Homo sapiens: one gene and its partner. The protein of the gene in region 1 purifies or fractionates together with the protein of each later gene. This does not show direct contact. Each region holds a gene or a part of one and is shown on either strand. Other genes may lie near its edges. The genes, in order: PCCB and MCCC1.

Region 1 (11,022 bases):
TTTAAAGTGGTTTACAAACAAAAAGGACTAATTCATATTGATAACCACTCAGTTACTAATTGAGGTAGCTTAACCATGTATCTTCAGTTTAAAGACAAAATGAACTACAAAGAAGTCGTGAACTTTAGAAGGTTTATTGTTGATAGAGCTGTAGTGATTCTGAAACTTGTATTTATGGTAGCACTGAGCAAATGAGTGAAATATATTGAGAATAATGGGAGCCAGGGTTATTACTGCTGTGGTAAGAGAGACAATACAGAATGGGGGAAGGCAAAGAAGCACCCATGGTGTTGGATTAAAAGTTTCAGTATGAACTCATGATTTAAAAGTATGATAAATATGTATTCATATATACATGTGTCCCACATATATATACACACACTTATTTGCATAAATTTTCCTAGTTCTGTCTGCTGAAATGCCTCAAAGCAATGATATCCAGTATCAGTGTGAATACCTAGTGCCAATTTTAGCTTCTAAATGACATACCTACTAAAAGAAACTAAGAAACTACTATATACTACTACTACATACCTATTAAAGAAACTCCTTGGAGAAACTGCTGATTCCTGGGCTGGGCAAGGAAAATACAAGATAAGCCTAGAGCATTATCTTGTCAGAAAATAACGAAATACTAAAAAAATCAGTGGGATATATTAAAAGCACTTTGGGAGGCTGAGGCGGGCAGATCACGAAATCAAGAGATCGAGACCATCCTGGCCAATATGGTGAAACCCCGTCTCTACTAAAAATACAAAAATTAGCTGGGCATGGTGGCACACACCTGTAGTCCCAGCTACTCGGGAGGCTGAGGCAGGAGAATTGCTTGAACCTGGGAGGCAGAGGTTGCAGTGAGTCGAGATTGCGCCACCGCACTCCAGCCTGGCGACAGAGCGAGACTCCTTCTCAAAAAATAAATAAATAAAATAAAATAAATCAAGTCCAAAATGATACTAAGAAAACAAAAACAGGAGAAAAGAAAGCTCCCTTCCTTACCTAGAGTTCCAACTAATAAATATGAGAGAGTTAGAAACTCAACATTTTATAATCAATGCAGAATCATTGATTGAGGCAAAAATCATCAATGAATACTAAAATTATTGGGTGAAAGTTTATTTATTTAATTTTCTGAGACAGAATCTAGCTTTGTCACCCAGGCTGGAGCACAGTGGTGTGATCTCGGCTCACTGCAACCTCCGCCTCCCAGGTTCAAGCGATTCTCCTGCCTCAGCCTCCTGAGTAGCTGGGCATGTGCCTCCACATCCGGCTAATTTTTGTATTTTTAGTAGAGATGGGGTTTCACCATGTTGGCCAGGATGGTCTCAAACTCCTGACCTAAGGTGATCTGCCCACTTTGGCCTCCCAAAGTGCTGGGATTACAGGCATGAGCCACTGCGCCTGGCCCAGGTGAAAGTTTATTGACAGACAAGATTAAATAATACCCCACAAATTAGTTATCAGTTACAAAGAGAAAATGGTAACTACCATGGAAAAACCTTTGCAGCCACGACCTTAACCATGTGATCAGAATCAGTTACCAACAGGAGGAAAAACTGACATAATGTGCTTACTAATGTGACGCACTGAAAGGAATATGTGTTAGTCTTATCTGAATCTAAACCTCAGGAAACAGACATCCCAAACTGAAGGACACTCTACCAAATAACCAGCAAGTAAGCTCTCCTCAAAAATGTCAACGTCATGAACGACAGACTATGTAAGACAAAGGACCTTGTTCCTAGGAGATACAAGTTTCTAGGAACACAGGGTCACGAATCTGCAACTGACTTTCAAAGGGGTCAATTAAATAATTATATTGTATATGTTATACAATTATATAATTATATAATGTATAAATACATAATATAAATATATAAATATATATAATCATGTTAGATATAATTATACATTAATTATATTAATAATATAATTAGATATATCTTATATGCATATTATATATTATTAGATATATCTACGTATGGAAGAAATAAAGCAAATGGAGAAAATGTTACCAACTGGAGAATCTAGGTGAAGTGGATACAATACACTTCTTGCAACATTTCTATCGGCTTGAAAATTTTCGCAATTAAAAAGTTTTTTTTTAATTTTAAGAACACATTTCTGGAAATAACCTGAGTCAACATAGGGTGCTATGCCTTATTGAGCATCTGTACTGCTAAACACATATACCACAATTGCAAACATCACATTTAATCCTCAATTCATGGAGGAATTAGGAGATAGATAGGGCATATTACCCTATTTTTAAAATAAGGAAACTTAAGCCTAAGAAATACTTTGCCTTAAAAACTTACTATATATCTCACCTATGGATAAAAAAACTAACTCGAGAGGAAAAAGAACAATACCCAGAGGTGTGAAATAAAAATCAGCTCTAGATGATAACACTGTGTACTATTTTTCTTTCTAGTTGTATTGATTTTTCAGATTTCCACCTAAAAAAATCGAATTTATGCTCAAAAAATACAACTTAAAATGTTTAAAAAAGTAAATAATTTTACAGTAAGGCACAAAAGAGATCTTTCTAGAATTTAATAAACTTAGTTATTCTAAGTTATCCAACTATTTGGATTCCCAGGTTTCATGATTGCAAAAGGCAGGAATGGGATGTGAATGGGCAGACAGTAATTCAGTTCTTGGTTTCTTTTCCTTTGATTTGTTTACAATGGAATATTTGCATGTTTTCTCCAAGGACGTTGTACCTTCTTGCTGGCCAAGACATCCAGGTCACAGCAGATTCGGGCACGTGTGGAAGAAGGTTGGATGATGTCATCCACAAACCCTGGTGAAGCACAGAAAAGGGAGTGGATCATCTGCATCCCGAGATGATGCCACCCCTCAACCTTCTGCTCAGCCTGGGCACCATCCCTGGGGCCAGCAGTATAAGCAGTGCCCAACCTGATACAGAGATGGTAGGCCCTGTGAATTCCCCCTTGTATCCCAGGAGCTGGCCTGTTCTGACAGCTCCCCAACTTCTGGCCTAGGAGCACTTGGCAAGAAAAGGAAAATCGGACACCCTCCCTATACCCTGCTTGCTCCAATGCCTCCATCCTGCCACAATGAATTCAATAGGAAATAAAGAAAATACATCTAGGTTTTCAAAAATGGCTATAACAATTCATCCTTGTACACAAGTCCTGCAATGTGACTTTACCACTTCTCTCTTCAAGAGGTGGATTTGTATTCCTTCGCTTAACCTTGTTGAGTTTTCTTGGCCTATAAAATGTGGCAAAAATGACACTGTGCAACTTCCAAATCTAGGCCTCAGTTTCCCTTTGCCCCCTTGCTACTCTCGGGACACCATGTAAGGAAGCCTGGACTAGCCTCCTCAAGGGTGAGAGGCCACGTGGGGAGTGAGTCTAGCTAACAGCAACTACCAAGTAAGTGACGCCATTTTGGACTGTCAAGCCCCGGTCAAGCCACAGAATGACTATACCTGTGTGGGTGATCCCAGGCAAGACCAGCACAAGAACCACTCAGCTGGGCCCAGACCAAATTGTGGACCCCACAGAACCATAAGCAGTGGGGGAAACGGTGGTTAGTTTAAGCTGTTGAGTTATAGGGTGAATTTCTGCACAGCACTAGACAACTGGAACAACACCTAGAAATTTAATACACTTTGGCAATGTTGTTTTAATTGTGGTTACCAAAGCAGCCTGTCCCACAGTCCTTAGTCCAAGTGATGACTGCCCAGGGACAGTCCCAACCCTCACTAGTCAACAGATTAGACTGCAAAGGCAAAAAGGCAGTTATGTGACAATTTCTGTAGAGAAAGAATGAGCAAGTTGACCAAACAAACAAAGCTGCCCTCTTCACCACAGTCCCCTACCTCGCACTGCTGCAGGGAAAGGGTTGGCAAACTTCTCGATGTACTCTGCCTGAGCAGCTTCCACATTCTCATGCCCTTTGAAGATGATCTCCACAGCGCCCTGTGATTAGAGGAGTTCATGAACATCTTTGGTCGTCCCAACCTGGACAGATCTCCTTCAACTCATTATCACTGTGTGTGGGTGCAAATTTCTTGGTAAATCAGTGTACTGAGGGGAAGTGCCATCTCTAAAGGCCATAGCATAGAGGGAGGAACTGCCTGGGGCTGACCATCATGACACAAGGGGCTGCATGATGGGATGTGATGCTTCCCTGTGGCCCCAATAAGGGGCAGTCAGGCAAAAGCCAGTAGCTTCTCTCCCCAGAGCCCATTCTACCATCTCCATTTGCACTCATCATATTTCTTTGAGCCAAAGATGTTAGCCCTGTTTTCCATTATTAAATCCATGGTCTTGTATCAAGGGGAATTAAATGTGCTATTTCCCTTTTTCGGTACCCTAAGACCTGAGTATACAATTCGGTGGCCAGAGGCGACCAGACTGAACTGGAAATTAGAAGGATTGGCCTTCAAGTCAGAGCACCTATAAGTCAACTCTAGGGGACCTGGAAGTTATCTGATTCGACCACAATAGCTACTTCAAAGCAGGGAGGAGTGAGGAATAGGTCAAGCAATAGGAAGTACCTTGTCCAACGTCACTAGGGTCGGACCTACAGTTTAGCTTCTTATGAGCTTAAAAGAGTAGCTCTGGGGCCCTCCCTGGAAGCTGAGGTGGAGCTGGGAGAATGTCCAATACTTCTGAAGGTGACTTCAGTTGACTCAACCCTTTGCCCCCTTTACTTACAATCTCAAAACCACTCTGGACCCCTCTCACTTTCCTTTCACCTGCCGCACCCACCTTGGCATGAAGACACCAGCGTGGGCCTGAAGAAAGGGTATAGGACAGGAGGCAGAGCTATCTCTGGAGCCCCAAGAGGGAGACTTACCAAGGTCTAGGTCCCATTCACCTCAGTCCTGGCTCAACCTAGGGGCCCTGGCCTCTCTCCAACATTTCCCAGCTATGCCTTGAGCTCTCGCTGGTAGAGTCGAGTCCTTGGACCCAGAAAGGGAAAAGCAAGAGGCCCTCACCTTTGCTCCCATGACTGCAATCTCTGCGGTGGGCCAGGCATAGTTGGTATCACCACAAAGGTGCTTAGAGCTCATGACATCATAGGCACCTCCATAGGCCTAAAACAGATCCAAATGCTGAGTGTTAGAGCCTGAGACAGCCAGATCATGTCCCTGAAAGACCCCAGGAAACCAGGTAAAATTGGGACAAAGAACAAGAATAGCCCTACTGGGCTCCTGAAGGCCCACGGTCTGTAAGACCTTTCAAAGTTAATGCTCATTATCTTTTCTGGCTTTTTCCCACTACTGCCTTCAGTTCCCCTGTGTTAAAAAAGCACAGACATTTCTGCGGGGCTGGGAACAACATCCTCAAGAGATCTTTTTAAGGATGAGCAAGGTGTACTCCTTCCAGCCCTGGTAAAACTCTGCCAGACCTCCCACCACGGCTATGCTGTAGGAAAGTGAGCAGGGTCATGGCCTCCAACATGAGGTCCTCACCTTCCTGGTGATGACTGTGACTTTGGGTACAGTTGCCTCAGCAAATGCGTAGAGAAGCTTGGCACCATGCCGGATGATGCCCCCGTATTCCTGTGCTGTGCCTAGACATGAGGAAGAGTTACTAGATACCCACAAGTCCTCACATGGTTATCCTGCCACTCTCAGCTGTGAGGTCTTTCCCACCTCTGGAGAGGGCCATTCCTTACACAGCCCTATCTTCTGGACACCCAGAATACATGGAGAAGTCACAAGTCCTCGGGGAGTTCTGCAAGAAGATCTCCAAATAAAGTGGGCACCTTACTGGGAAAGGCAACTCTCCTAGCCCCCACTCTGTCAAAAACTTACCAGGTAGAAAGCCAGGGACATCAACAAAAGTGATGAGTGGAATATTGAATGCATCACAGAATCTGACAAAACGAGCCCCTTTCACAGATGAATTAATATCCAAGCATCCTAGAAAGAGAGAGATTATCCATACTGAGTATCCAGGCAATTCCCAGTTCTATCCACAATGGGGATTTGTCCTCAGCAGCCATCCAAAGCTGGTTTCTGTGGAGGCACCAACACTTCTTTGTTGCAGAATGGTAACAAGGACCCCTCAAACTCCAGGAAACAGGGAAGATGAAGAATCCACCTGTCTGTCACTGGCCAAAGAGGCCCAGAACTAGACTACTACAGACTCACTACAGACCAAAGGGCTGCCGCCAGCTGAGACACAGCCGGCCTTGCCGCAGGGAGCCATCAGTGGGAGGCAGCATTCAAGGGCTGGTCTTAGAGAGTCCTCAGAGCTTCCAATCAGATTCTGGCTCCACTGATGATGGCAACGTGCCCTTGAGAAATTACTTTGCCTTTTGACCTAAGGTTCCTTACCTGCAAAGTAGGGACGATACTGCCTCCTAGCATAGTTCCAAGGAGTAAAGGAAATGGAATCTATAAAGCAGCACAGAGTAGGAGCTCAATTACTAGTAAATCTCCCCTCCTAGAAGAGTTTCCAACTTAATTCTATGAGACCAGTATTACCCCAATACCAAAGCAAGACAAGGACCATCATCAGAAAAGAATACAGACCAAAAACATAAATGAAAAATTTTTACTTTTTAAGTAAGGCACATTATCAAGTCCAGCAATATATACAAAAACAGTAGGCCAGGCGCGGTGGCTCATGACCGTAATCCCAGCACTTTGGGAGGCCGAGGCGGGCAGATCACGAGGTCAAGAGATCGAGACCATCCTGGCTGACAAGGTGAAACCCTGTCTCTACTAAAAATACAAAAATTAGCCGGGTGTGGTGGCGGGTACCTGTAGTCCCAGCTACTTGGGAGGCTGAGGCAGGAGAATGGTGTGAACCCGGGAGGCGGAGCTTGCAGTGAGCTGAAATCATGCCACTGCACTCCAGCCCGGGTGACAGAGCAACACTCCATCTCAAAAAAACAGTAATACATCATGTCCAAGTGGGGTTTATCCCAAGAATTCAAGGTTGATTTCAGCATGTGAAAACTAATGAAATTATTAAATAAAGGAAAAAAACTATATGAACATCTCAATAGATGTAGAGAAAATACCTGAAAAAATTTAATATCCATTCATGAATAAAAACATGGCCCGGCACAGTGGCTCACACCTGTAATCCCAGCACTTTGGGAGGTCGGGCAGGCAGACCACTTGAGGTCAGGAGTTCAAGACCAGCCTGGCCAACATGGTGAAACCTCATCTCTACTAAAAAATACAAAAATTAGCCAGGCGTGGTTGCAGGCACCTGTACTCCCAGCTACTCAGAAGGCTTGAGGAAGGAGAATCACTTGAACCCAGGAGGCAGAGGTTGCAGTGAGCCAAGATTGCACCACCACTCTAGGCAACAGAGTGAGACTCCATCTCAAATAAAAAAAAAAGGAAAGGAAAGGAAATAAATAGGCAAGTCACAAGCCAGGCCCTAGAAATCAACAATAAAAAGACAATGTAGTCCCAGCTACTCAGGAGGCCAAAGTGGAGGACTGCTTAAGCCCAGGAGTTTGAGACCTGCCTGGGCAACATAGTGACACTCTGTCTCTAAAAGAACAAAAAAAAATGGCCAGATGTGGTGGCTCACACCTGTAATCCCATCATTTTGGGAGGCCAAGGTGGGCGGATCACCTGAGGTCAGGAGTTCAAGACCAGCCTGGCCAAAATGGCAAAACCCTGTCTCTACTAAAAATACAAAAATTAGCCGAGCGTGGTGCACACCTGTAATCCCATCTACCTCAGAGGCTGAGGCAGGAGAATTGCTTGAACCTGGGAGAAGGAGGTTGCAGTGAGCCAAGATCATGCCACTGCACTCCAGACTAGGTGACAGAGTGAGACTCTGTCTCAAAAAAATAAAAGAAAATGGTATGAAAGCTCTGTGCCTTTTTAATTACACTTGTCCCATTTCCTCCCTGGTTCTGGAGGAAGCAGAGCAGACCTCATTCACAAATTTCCGCATATGTCTGCTCTAACCTGTCTGTGGGCTGCCTGAAGGACTGACACAAGGAACACATCTCTGTTTCACCTAACTCAGAACTTATCCAGGCTGGAAATGTAGCAGGCATTTCTTTAAATCATGGTAAGGTAGAGGAACAACCTGCAGATGTCTGGGCAAAAGATTACTGTTGAAACCACCTAAGATATGGGAGAAAAAAAAAACAGAGAGTGTCTTTAGGAAATTAGTGCATTCAAAAGCACCCGTGAATAGGGAGAATTCAGAAAGACACATGTATGCCTAGGATGAGATACACGATCAGAAAAGATCTGAGAGGGGAAATAAGAAAAGAAGTTGAATGAAAATGAAAACACTATTACAAAATAAAAGACCAGAGAAAACCTTAAACTTTAACCTTGAGCTGATCTCAAACCTTAGTTCAAGTTTGGCTAAGCATCAAAGGAGAGCCCCAACACAGAGACAATTTCAAGACCAGGAGTTTTCTTGTTTGTTGTTTCTTGGTTTTAGTTCCTGGTGTTCAAGAAAATTTCTGTCAAATATACAAGTTAAGAAACAGGCTGGGCATGGTGGCTCACACCTGTAATCCTAACACTGTGGGAGGCTACTTTGGGAGAATCTCTTAAGGACAGGAGTTCAAGACCAGCCCAGGCAACAGAGCAAGACCCTGTCTCAAAAGAAAGAAAGAAACAATAAGAAGAAACAGGGACTTCAGTGACCACAAATGACAAAAAATATAGTCTCTGGAAAAGTCATTGCAAAAAGACACTAGGCAAACATATATGACATTAAATATCAAAAAAAAAAAAAACAAAGCTTGGGAAAAGAGGAAAATTTGACTGCCAGCGTTACCACATTATAATGTATAAATACCCCATTTTCAATTAAAAAAATCACAAGGTATAAAATGAAGAAACTATCCCTAAGTAAGCATAGACACTGAACTTACTAGAAAAAGACTATAAAACACTACTAGTGGGTTTTTTTTTTTTTTTTGAGATGTTTTGTTTTGTTTCTGAGATGGAGTTCTGCTTCTTGTCACCCAGGCTGGAGTGCAATGGCGCCATCTCAGCTCACTGCAAGCTCTGCCTCCCAGGTTCATGTGATTCTCCTGCCTCGGCCTCGTAAGTAGCTGGGACTACAGGCACCCTCTGCCACGTCCGGCTCATTTTTTGTATTTTTAGTAGGGACAGGGTTTCACCACATTGGCTAGGTTGGTCTCGAACTCTTGACCTCAGGTGATCTGCCCACCTTGGCCTCTCAAAGTGCTGGGATTACAGGCAGGAGCCACCATGCCCAGCCTAAACTAGTCTTAAATATATTCAAAGAGGTAAAGGAAAACATGGACAAAGAACTAAAGGAAATCAGGAAAATAATGAAAAATTCTGGAGCTGAAAAGTACAATAAATGAAATGAAAAATTCACTACAAGGATTCAATAGGAGATTTGAGCAGGCAGAAGAAAGATCAGAGAATATGAAGATAAAACAATTGAAATTACTCTGAGGAGAAAATAAAAAAATTAAATGAGCAGAACCTAAGGGACCTGTGGGACACCCACATGTGAACCAACATACACAGGATAAGAGCACCAGGAGAAGACTAAGAGAAAGTGGCAAGGAGATAATCTGATGAAATAATGTCCGAAAACTTCCCAAGTTTGATGCAAGATGTGAAACTAGAAATATAAGAAACTCAACTAACTCTAAGAAGAATACATTCAGAAACCCACACTGAGACATATTATAGTCAAATTACTGAAAGACAAAAGAGAATCTTAAAAGCAGCAAAAAAAAAAAAAAAAAACTCATCATTTACAAGAAATCCTCATTAAGATTATCCAGTGATTTCTCAGCAGAAACTCTGAAAGCCAGAGACAGCAGGATAACATATTTAAAATGCTAAAAGAATAAAAGTGTCAACCAAGAATTCTATATCTGGCAAACTGTCCTTCAAAAATGAGAGAAAATTTAAGAATTAAGACATTTTCAGATAAACAAAAGCTGAGGCCCTCAGTACCAACCAGCCTACTCCACAGAAAAATGCTAAAGGAAGCCCTTCAGGTTAAAAGAAAAGAACACTAGACGGTATCACAAAGCTACATTAGGAAATAAATATCTCAAGTAAAGATGACTACATGGGCAAATATAAAAACCAGGATTTGAGTATTTTGGTTTCTAACTTCACTTTTTATTTCCTACATAATTTAAAAAGCAAATAAAGCCCAGGTTTCAACTAGTGAATTCTACCATACATTTAAGGAAGATATTAATACCAGTTCTCTACAATCTTTTCCAGAAGACAGAAGCAGAAAGAATACTTTCTAACTCATTCTATGAGTCCAGCATCACTCTGATACCAAAACCAGACAAAGACATTGCAAGAAAACTATATCTCAATATTGCTCATAAACATATATGAAAAAATCCTCAACAAAATATTAGCAGATCAAATCCAACAATGCAGAAAAAGAATTACACATCAAAACCAGGTGGGATTTATCTCAGGTATGTGAGTTTAGTTCAACAGTCAAAAATCAATTAACGTAATCTATCATATCAACAGTCTAAAGAAGAAAAATCACATGATCATATGAATACAAAAAAAGCATGTAACAAAATCCAAAATACATTCATGACAAAAACTCTCAATAAACTAGGTATAGAGGGGAATTTCTTCAACTTTATAAAGAACATCTATGAAAAACCTACAACTAACATCACACTTACTTGTAAGAAACTAGAAGTTTTCCTGCTAAGACCAAATGTCCCCTCACCACTATCTTTCAATATTGTATTGGAAGTCCTGGCTAATGCAGGAAGACAAGAAAATAAAACGTATACACATTGAGAAGGAAGAAATCAAACTGTCTTTGTTCACAGATGACAAAATTGTCCATACAGAAAATCTGAAAGAAGTGACCAAAAAATAACTGCTGGAACTAATAATATAGCAAGGTTGCAGGATAAAAGGCTAATATACAAAAATCAATTACTTTCCTATATATTGGCAATAAACCAGTAGAATCTGAAATTTAAAACAAAATACTATTGGTATGGGATAGCTCTGTGTGCCCGCCCAAATCTCATCTCAAATTGTAATACCCATGTGTTGAGAGA
Region 2 (11,022 bases), about 47 Mb from region 1:
GTCTGCAGAGCCTGAGGTGTTTTCAAAATATACTGCCATAAAGGTATTTAACTTAGTTCCGTTTCCTTTCATTCTTAACTGCTGTGCATCCTGATCTTTCATATTTACAGATTCAGAAAAATGAAACTTTTGCTTCTGTTTTATACTTACCGGTTTAGTTCAATGTCATGCTAAGTTACTTAGAGTCTAGATTTTCCTGTATCTATATTGCTTTCTCAGGTTGTCATTTTCTCATCTTGGAAAAAAACTTAAGAGTAAAGAGAGAAAGTGCAATGTGTCCTCCAATAGCCATTTCCAATTTATACTAGTTAATTGAAGAGAGTGATTTGTTGTATTGGTACATAATAACTAAAATAGTAATAATTATAGTAACAACAAACAATAGTGATCACCCTGTTTGTAATCTGGTATCATGCAGTACATATCAACATAACAAAATTGAAAAACCATCATTTTCCCCTTTCTGTTTTGCTTTATCACCCACTTACTGGTGAAGATTACAGCGTAGGATGACAATGTCAGCTACACTTTTTGCTTGGCTGTGAATCTAGTCCTAAACACTAATAATATACTATTTTTTAAAAAAAATTGATTTGGGAATTAAGTGCTAATGTTTTAAATGAAAACTGAGAGTGTGTTGCTAGTAAGAAGTTTTGGTTTTGATTATATTGAACAAACACTGATTTTTATATTTGTAAGTTAGCCATCACTTTGCCTGCTTTTGCCATTTAAAAACTCCGATACCCCAAATGATAGACTGTTGCCAAGCTGCATCTGTTTTTTAATTTTTTGTTTTGCCCAATACTCAAATGAGTAGACAAAATAATAGTTTTTATTTGGCTGCATTGCAAAACCTAAATGTACATTTTACCTAGAAAAAAAGCAAGACCATTGATTTACTAAGTCTGGTAGCCGCTATACGGTAGATTTCATAAGAAACACTATTCTATTGCCAGATTGCAGCAGGAGAGAAGATTCCTTTGAGCCAGGAAGAAATAACTCTGCAGGGCCATGCCTTCGAAGCTAGAATATATGCAGAAGATCCTAGCAATAACTTCATGCCTGTGGCAGGCCCATTAGTGCACCTCTCTACTCCTCGAGCAGACCCTTCCACCAGGATTGAAACTGGAGTACGGCAAGGTAAAGTGAAAGAAAATGAAAAGTCTCACTCTTTTTAAGTTTTTAGTACATTATTGTTTTTGGACACATTCTTATCCCTGAGTCTTACAGAACTGTCTAGCATATTTTAAAATAAAGAATTTAAGTGATTTCTCAGTAACCATTACTTTTTGCCTCTGGAATTGTTATTTTTAAAGAATAACAAGTATTTTTCAACAACGGACTCCTTTTTTTTGAAATTCAGCAGTACTTGGTCAAACCTAACCAGGAAATATTTTGTGTGTACTGTTCTTGACCTTGCCTCATTCCAAAAATGATTTAAGATGACTGATATCTGCTATGCACAAGGCAGACTGCCTTCAAAGGACATAAAGTCAAGTTGGAGAATTAACACATAAACTTAGTATAAGCTAAACAATAAAAAAATTAAAGTAAAGAAACAGTGGAAGAGCTATCACAGTTCAGCATATGATTAATAACAGTGGTCATAACTAGTGATTATTTAGGACTTCCTACTTACAGGCACTGCTCTAGGTGATTTTTCTACTTGTGTTCCTTTCACCATGAGAAGTACCCTGTAAGTAGGCATTATTATCATCCCTGTTTTCTAGATGAGGAAACTGGAGCACAGAAGAGTTAAGTGACTTGTCCAAGGTCATCCTTGGAGCCAAGATTCAGACCCAGGCAGTCTTGCTCCAGAGTCAGTGCTCTGAGCCTCCACGGTCTCCTGTCATCTTAATTTCAATTGCTGGAATAAGTTATACAGTGATGGGATATAGCAATTCTCAGGGGTAAGAGGTCACACTAGACTGATATAATTAGGACAAGTTTTTTGTTTGTTTGTTTTTTTGTTTGTTTTTGTTTTTGAGACAAGGTCTCACTCTGTGCCCAGGCTGGAGTACAGTGGTGTGATCTCAGCTCACTACAACCTTTATCTCCCTGACTTAAGCAGTTCTCAGGCCTCAGCCTCCCGAGTAGCTGGGATTACAGGTGTATACCACCATGCCTAGCTAATTTTTTTTTTTTTTTTTGTATTTTTAGTAGAGACAGGTTTTCACCATGTTGGCTAGGCTGGTCTCAAACTCCTGGCCTCAAGTGATCTGCCCACCTTGGCCTTTCAAGGTGCTGGGATTACAGGGGTGAGCCACCGTGCCTGGCCAGGACAAGTTTTTAAGAGGATGTCTGGAATGGATTTAGATAGGTAGATTTAAACAGCATAATGAAGAGTGAAGAAAAGAGAAAAAGGTATGTTTGAAGAATAGTAAGAAAATATATGACTGGAGACATGGGTTGAAGGCAAATCCTAGTGTCCTAAAAGCCAAAATGAGGATTTAGATCTTCTTAAAAATAAATTGGCAGCATTTTGAGAGCTCTGGATAAGCCACAGCAAGATTTGGTAGTTAGTAGACTTTTTAACTTAGCAAAGCATCTTAACTCTGCTTGCCCCACCGGTTCCTTCCTTTTTTTTTTTTTTTTTTTTTTTTTTTTTCTGAGATGGAGTTTCACTCTTGTTGCCCAGGCTGGAGTGCAATGGCACGATTTTGGCTCACTGCAACCTCCACTTCCCAGGTTCAAATGATTCTCCTTCCTCAGCCTCCTGAGTAGCTGGAATTACAGGCACCCGCCACCACGCCCGGCTAATTTTTTGTATTTTTAGTAGAGACAGGGTTTCACTATGTTGGCCAGGCTGGTCTTGAACTCCTGACTTTGTGATCTGCCCACCTCGGCCTCCCAAAGTCTTGGGAGTACAGGCGTGAGCCACCTGTAGGCACCTCTAATCTTATCAACGAGGACTCTGGGGTTCAAAGAGGTCAAGTGACCTGCCAAAATCCTGGAAAGACCCTGCAACAACGTTCTTTTCAACACACCACATCCTTTCTACTTGAACCATTTCTAACCAGTGGAATGTGCCCTGGTTCAGATTCTTGTTCTCTAGGACTGTAACCATCCCAGTGATGATAGCTGCCATTGGTTTATCAGTTTTGCCAGGTATGGCACTTGTCACTTTATTGTCACTCCTCCCAGCAACCCTGCAGGACAGAGGAATTATTAAACTTGCTTGACTAGTACGGAAACTGAAAGAGTGGAGGGGAGGGGAATGCTAAGGGCAGAAATGAGGGGAATGTGAGAGGGTGGAGGGAGATTGTGTTGACTTTGAAAATGAGAAGGGAAAAGAAGATTCAGAAGAAGATAGGACAGGGAAAGCCAGCTTGTGTGCCATTGAATCACCACGTTAGGGCCTGGTGCTGTTGGGTGGCCCACCTCGTTACACCTGGTGAGTTTTCAAAGCCCTCTGAACCTCAGGGTCCTCATGAATAAATTTGTGTTGTTATTTATCATGCAGGGGTTTATGAGGATTAAGCGTGAAATGTACATAACAAAATGTCTTGCTCGTTGTATTTTATTCCTTCGTGTTTTGACTTGAAGAGGTTACCGTGGTTTTCAATTTCAGGAGACGAAGTTTCCGTGCATTATGACCCCATGATTGCGAAGCTGGTCGTGTGGGCAGCAGATCGCCAGGCGGCATTGACAAAACTGAGGTACAGCCTTCGTCAGTACAATGTGAGTGATCTGAGACCGTGCCAGTGACCTTGATGTGTTTGGTCAGCACCAGAGGTCAGCCTTTGTCTTTGGCAGGGCCTTGGTCTCGTCAGCATATTTTCTATTTCCATCAATTGCCCAAACAAAATAGTTTCACATGGGAGAATTTTGCGTGGGCCAGAACAGGGTTTGAGGACTTCTTCATTTCAGTTACAAAAGAAAGATTGCAGAAGTAAAATTGTTAGTGTCAGTGCTATGCTTCGGTGAAATCCTATTCACTCTGTAGATAAGGCCAGCTATACATGGTACCTTCGTAGGTTTTTTATTTTTCCTAAGAGCTGTCCACAGTAGAAAATACTTAGGAAATAAAAGCAGATGTTTTCCTGAATGTTGTTTTCGCTACCCAGTATGCCTGCAGTCCAGTAGTTTTTCTCTAAAGTAAAATAATTATGTTCAGTTTCATCCCTTTAATAGAGTTTGTTATTTTTCTGTAGAACATTAATTTCCTTGGTGCAGAAAGTCCCATACCACATTGATTTGGCTCATAGAAGGATTTATTAACCCAGTTATTCAACTTGTTATTGTTAATAATTGATCAAAGCTCTGGTCTCTGTGGCTCCAACCACACTGGCCGCCTCACCGCTTCTGAGACTCACTCAGCATGGAGCCATGCATTCCTGTCCAATCTTCCAGAATGTTCTTCCCCCACATGATTGCAGGGCTCCCTCCTGACTACCCTGCTCTCCTGCTCTGAGCCCTTTCCCAGGCTGCCCCATTTAAAGTATGACCTTTTGTTATTCTTTATCCTCTTAGCCAGCCTTCATTTTCTTCATAGCATGTAACATTATATTCAATACCTGTTTACAGATATTGTTACTTGTTGCCCTAGAATGTAAGCAGAGACTGTGAAGGCAGGGACATCATATGTTTTGTTCCTCACTATGTCCCCAGTGCCTGGATCAGAGCCTGGCACTTAAGAGATGCTCAGGAAATGGCTGTTAAATGAATGAAGGAATGGATGAGTGAATGAATGAACCCAAAGCTCAGATAGCTGGTTTTACTTTTGATCCCATTTATTGGTGTATTTGGGTTAATTTTATACCTTTTAAAATTTTTGTATCGGTATATAAAATTTGGATTTTATTGTTGGAAAGAAGCTCTTTTGAGGGCATTTAATCCTATCCTCTCCCCAGTATAGCAATCCAGCTTGCTGTTTGCAGTCTTCCTATTCTGTGGAAGTGTTCTGAGCAGCAAGTCTTCGATACCTTGCAAATGAATTTCATTTATGTTTCTTAACATTTATTATGTTCCTAACCTGAGTCAAGTAAGTGCCTCGGTATTTCCAGCATCCTCTTTGTCATATTAAAATGTAATTTTTAGTGTCAAGTCCAGATGGATATAGTAATAGCGGATGGACATAGTGATAGTGAGATGGTTTTTTTGTGTTTTTTTTCCTGAGAATTGTCCTGTTGCCACATGGTACCTTAGTAGGTTTTTTATTTTTCCTAAGAGTTGTTCACAGTAGAAAATACTTAGATAAAAAGAGCAGATGGTTTTCTGAACATATTGTTTTCCCCACTCAGCAGGAACTGGGGGTTTATTCTCTTCCTAGATTGTTGGACTGCACACCAACATTGACTTCTTACTCAACCTGTCTGGCCACCCAGAGTTTGAAGCTGGGAACGTGCACACTGATTTCATCCCTCAACACCACAAACAGTTGTTGCTCAGTCGGAAGGCTGCAGCCAAAGAGTCTTTATGCCAGGCAGCCCTGGGTCTCATCCTCAAGGAGAAAGCCATGACCGACACTTTCACTCTTCAGGCACATGGTATGGAAGGCTTTTCTCTTTCCTCTGCTTGTCAAGTTTTGCAAATCATCATTGAACATGCTTTTCTTTCTGTATGGCACACTGACCTCTCTTTTCTCCTCTCAGTGACTGACACCATTCTTTTCAGATGTGTTTTTTAGTATGAAGGAAAGCTCTTCACTTACCATGGATGCACCCATAAACACTATTTAACCCATTAACTGGAGTGTAACTAATCACCTAACATTGTAGAAATGGATCTCTTTGGCCAGGCGCGGTGGCTCACGTCTGTAATCCCAGCACTTTGGGAGGCCAGGGCGGCTGGATCATGAGGTCAGGAGATCAAGACCATCCTGGCTAACACGGTGAAACCCCATCTCTACTAAAAATACAAAAAATTAGCTGGGCGTGGTGGCACGTGCCTGTGATCCCAGCACTTTAGAAGGCCAGGGTGGGCGGATCATGATGTCAGGAGATCAAGACCATCCTGGCTAACATGGTGAAACCCTGTCTCTACTAAAAATACAAAAAATAAGCTGGGTGTGGTGGCACGCACCTGTAGTCCCAGCTACTCGGGAGGCTGAGACAAGAGAATCGCTTGAACCCGGGAGGCGGAGGTTGCAGTGAACCGAGATCGCGCCACTGCACTCCAGCCTGGACAACAGGGCGAGAGTTCATCTAAAAAAAAAAAAAAAAAAAAAGGAAATGGATCTCTTTTCAGTCAAACACTTGTTCTCCCCACATCCTACACTAATTTCTTATCACTTCTTTTGTTCGCCACTCCTCATAGCCCTACTTTGTTTTGTCCTCTGTACCTGCAGCAACTCCCTTTGTCCCAGAGTCTCAAGACAATCTAAGACTGGAGACTTAGATTCCCCAGGGTTACCCATGACTTATTGTCGAATTACTTCCGCTTTTTCCATCCTGTGATTGAATGTCTACCTAGAGACTTCATAGTGTCATAGAATCCAAGCATAGGAAGGGCCATAGTGGGGTTCATCCTGGCTACCACACATATGCATTGCATCCCTACCCCAGCACACCCACTAAGCTGTTGCCCAACTTCTTCCTAACACCTTGGGAAACTGGAAGTTCATTACCTCATCAGGTAGCTTACAGTTTCAGTCAGTTCTCCATTAGAAAGTTCTGCCTTTAAACCAAACACCGCATGTTCTCACTCATAGGTGGGAATTGAACAATGAGATCACTTGGACACAGGGTGGGGAACATCACACACCGGGGCCTGTCGTGGGGTGGGGGGAGGGGGGAGGGATAGCATTAGGAGATATACCTAATGTAAATGACGAGTTAATAGGTGCAGCACACCAACATGACACATGTATACATATGTAACAAACCTGCACCTTGTGCACATGTACCCTAGAACTTAAAGTATTAAAAAAAAAAAGTTCTGCCCTTTAAATTGATACAAAATCTCAGCTCTCACATACTTTTTGCATTTCAGGCTAGCTCTGACTTTCGGAGCAAACAGAATTTTTAAAAATCTGATCTATTTTTCTCTTTTATTGGTAATTATTATATTACCCTATACAGTTTGAGCATCCCAAATCCCCAAATCCAAAATGCTCCAGAATCGGAAGCTTTTTCAGCACTAACATGATGCTCAAAGGAAATGCTCATTGGAACAGTTCAGATTCCAGATACTTGGATCAGGGATGCTAAGCCAGTTAAATATAATGCAAATAATCCAAAATCCAAAAAAAAAAAAAAAAATCTGAAATTCAAAACACTTCTGGTCCCAAGCATTTTGGGTAAGTGATACTGAACCCGTATTATTATAGGATCCTATCATTAGAATCTTTAATTTCTGAATTCATTTAGATTCATTCAAGATAGCTGTATGGAAAGCTTAAAATGTAAAATGTTTTAAGTCCCGAAAACTGCATCTTTAGAAGATTTGTGCTCTATCCTCATTTTATCCTTTTACATTGAATGAAAATGCATCTAAATACGTCCCATGTGGTATTCCTGAGCCTGACCTTAACGTTTTTAGAATGGAACGTTGTCTTACTGTGACCTTCCTTTTGAAAGTTTATAATTGGTACAGATATGAGGTTCAGAATAAATTGCATCAGCTTAGCTATGCTGAAGCTCCTGGATATTGTCCAATAGAGGATATACACCCAAATGCCTATAAGGGGCCAGGCGCGGTGGCTCATGCCTGTAATCCCAACACTTTGAGAGGCCCAGGGCGGGTGGATCACTTAAGGTCAGGAGTTTGAGACCAGCCTGGCCAACATGGTGAAACCCCATCTCCACTAAAAATAGAAAAGTTAGCCAGCTGTGGTGGCACCCACCTGTAATCCCAGCTACTCTGGAGGCTGAGGCAGGAGAATCACTTGAACCCAGGAGGTGGAGGTTGCAGTGAGCCAAGATCATGCCACTGCACTCCATCCTGGGCGACAGAACGAGACTCGTCTCAAAAAAGAAAAAAAAAAAAGGCCTATAAGGGCTGGGCCAACAACATAAAAACATAAAAGAGTAAAAGAGGCCAGGTGAAAGAAAAATAGTGAATAGTAGAGACTGGTGACCTGGAATGAATTTGCCCCATCAAAAGGTGGTGACTGTGGTACAGTTTATGCCACTATGGGATTAGAGTTTAGATTGCAAATATTCAGATTCTTCAATAGAAGCTAGAATTTTTCACATGAAATTTCATAAGATGTAAACAAAACCAGCCCTTTAAACTTAACAAGAAGAACAAAAAAAGCACATCTGAGCTGCCAGTTTAGGACGTGTGTTTTTTTGTTTTTTTTTTTTTTTGAGACGGAGTCTTGCTCTGTCGCCCAGGCTGGATCCGGTGCAGTGGCGCAATCTTGGCTCACTGCAAGCTCCACCTCCCGGATTCACGCCATTCTCCTGCCTCAGCCTCCAGAGTAGCTGGGACTAGAGGCGCCCGTCACCATGCCCAGCTAATTTTTTTGTATTTTTAGTAGAGACGGGGTTTCACCGTGTTAGCTAGGATGGTCTCGATCTCCTGACCTCATGATCCGCCCGCCTTGGCCTCCCAAAGTGCTGGGATTACAGGCATGAGCCACTGTGCCCGGCCAGCACTTGCATTTTATGTTTTCTTTTGTAAGGTGTAAATTTCATAGGCTTGATACTCATAAGTTTGTTACTGAATTTTAAATTTTTTCTAGATCAATTCTCTCCATTTTCGTCTAGCAGTGGAAGAAGACTGAATATCTCGTATACCAGAAACATGACTCTTAAAGATGGTAAAAACAGTAAGTAATGTTTCATTAAAAGAGAAATGTGAGTCATAGAAATGTATCACATTAATCTGAAAAAGAGGATTCCAGCCTGGCCATGATCAGTCAGTTACATTTTTTAAATGCCTAGGCTAAACATTGGAGGGAAATATGCCAATATAATAGAATTGATTGGCTCTGGGTAGTAGAGTTGATGGTATTTGCTTTTCTTCTTTACACTTTTTAAAAATTTTGTAAATATTCTAAAAATATGTCATAAAATAAACATAGCAAAACAGCTGAAATGAAATATGCCAGAATGTTAGAAATATGCCCAAAAAAACCTCTTTTTCCCCAATTCTTTGTACTTTTTTTTTTGCTTTGCAATTTTTCTGCAGCGAGAATGTATTACTTTTAAATAAGAAAAACAGTTTTCAAAACTATGTCAGAGAGGGACGATTACCCACTGCCCATGCAGTGTTTCAGGGGTTTCAGGTGGAAGTGGGTCACTGCAGAGCTGTAATTTATTAAGTGCCTTATCTGATGTAAGTTTTTATCTTCACAACGTAAATGAGGGGGAGTCGCTGTTATACCCACGTATGGAAGATGAAAGCATGGATGGTAAGGCACAGAAGTGAAGTAGTTTAGTCAAGGCTAGTGAGTGGCAGAACTAGGATTCACACCTACTCTTTGTGACATTGACTCTTAGGCTGTTTCCACCACTTTTCCAGTAGAAAATTGATTTTTGATTGTAAACTAATTTGAGTTGGCTCGACTTAGTGACTGATTTTCTTTAACTGATGTCAAAAGAGGCTGACGCTTAAGCCAGAAGGCAGTTTATAAACTTTTGGCTGGAGCAGTGTAGCAGCAGGACCAGAATTCTATGATAGCTGGTCACTGTATCCCTTCTGCTGTGAGACAGTTTGTGTGGGAGGCCCAATGGGCAGAGTCAGAGCTCAGAATCCTGGCTAACCTTGAATGTGACATGTCATTGAACTGTGACAGTTCTGGTATAAAAATATGCCTCCCAGGTAGAGCAGAATACTTTCACCAGCTGATCACAGAACGCTCTTCCTTGGACAGAGGAAAATCTCTTTTACTTCACCTCTATGAAGACACTCACCCAGTAACAAATTTTTTTTTTTTTTTTTTTGACACAGACTCTGGCTCTGTTGCCCAGGCTGGAGTGCAGTGGCACGATCTTGGCTCACTGCAAGCTCCACCTCCTGGGTTCGTGCCATTCTCATGCCTCAGCCTCCCGAGTATCTGAGACTACAGGCACCCACCACCACGCCCGGCTAAGTTTTTGTATTTTTAGTAGAGACAGGGTTTCACCATTTTAGCCAGGATAGTCTCGATCTCCTGACCTTATGATCCACTCACCTCAGCCTCCCAAAGTGCTGGGATTACAGGCGTGAGCCACCATGCCAGCCAGTAACAAATATTTTGTTCACACAAGTTTATTGGGTTACAGCTCTTCAGTTATTTTTCAATCCTGAGCCTAGATGGTCATTATCTTAAGTGCATTGGGCATATTGTTAAGCCTTTATAATGAAAATTTGTAAACATCTTTATATAGTAGCATTCTGCAAATGGTTAACCCATCCATTTATGCTCATTTCATCCTAAAAAATACAACCCCCCAAATCTGGAAGTATCTTATTCTAGACTCCTATATGCTGAATGCAAATATCAAAAGCGGTAAAGTTTCACTGGCTTCTTCAACCTGAATTGAACAGAAGAATTACATATTTGATTGTAATTCATATAGGCCAACTGTGTTATTTGGCATGGCTCTTCACTAAAGCACCAAGCACTGATTTGAAGTATGTTGCATTTTTTGGAATTAAAAAAAGTTTTCATGAAAAAATAAATACATAATTGAAAAGCCAACATGATTGCTGTTCACTACACCCTTTTGGCAGTATTCTATGAAAATAATCCAAGTCTGTATGTAAGAGCTTTCAGAAAATGATACATAGCTAAGTCTCCAAAAAATGCTAATAAGCAATGACCACAATTAAATAGAATGCATGAAACAGGAAGCTTAAGAGACCAGGCTGGTCACAGTGGCTCACACCTGTAATCTCAGCACTTTGGGAGGCCAAGGCGGGAGGATTGCTTGAGGGCAGGAGTTTGAGATCAGCCTAGGTGACATAGTGAGATCCTGTCCCTATTTATAAAATAAAAATTTTTAAAAAGGAAAAAAAAAAAAAAAGATACCAGAAGTGCCAGGCACGGTATCTCCCACCCGTAACCCCAGCACTTTGGGAGGCTGAGGCAGGTGGATCACGAGGTCAGGAGATGGAGACCATCCTGGCTAACATGGTGAAACCCTGTCT

Evidence for each region.
Region 2: the proteins of PCCB (region 1) and MCCC1 purify together in Homo sapiens (affinity purification with mass spectrometry; 2 studies listed by BioGRID and IntAct, with this or other methods). This does not show direct contact.

What each region holds. Positions count from the first base shown.
Region 1 is NC_000003.12:136,321,686-136,332,707, reverse strand, and holds the end of PCCB (propionyl-CoA carboxylase beta chain, mitochondrial isoform 1 precursor), read right to left. Parts: intron 6,383-11,022; coding exon of another isoform or gene 6,309-6,382; exon of another isoform or gene 6,294-6,308; intron 5,906-6,293; coding exon 5,798-5,905; intron 5,554-5,797; coding exon 5,453-5,553; intron 5,075-5,452; coding exon 4,976-5,074; intron 3,951-4,975; coding exon 3,851-3,950; intron 2,804-3,850; coding exon 2,682-2,803; 3' UTR 2,539-2,681; downstream 1-2,538. UniProt on the Homo sapiens protein: This is one of the 2 subunits of the biotin-dependent propionyl-CoA carboxylase (PCC), a mitochondrial enzyme involved in the catabolism of odd chain fatty acids, branched-chain amino acids isoleucine, threonine, methionine, and valine and other metabolites.
Region 2 is NC_000003.12:183,031,685-183,042,706, reverse strand, and holds part of MCCC1 (methylcrotonoyl-CoA carboxylase subunit alpha, mitochondrial isoform 1 precursor), read left to right. Parts: intron 1-956; coding exon 957-1,140; intron 1,141-3,571; coding exon 3,572-3,681; intron 3,682-5,272; coding exon 5,273-5,489; intron 5,490-8,629; coding exon 8,630-8,716; intron 8,717-8,722; exon of another isoform or gene 8,723-11,022.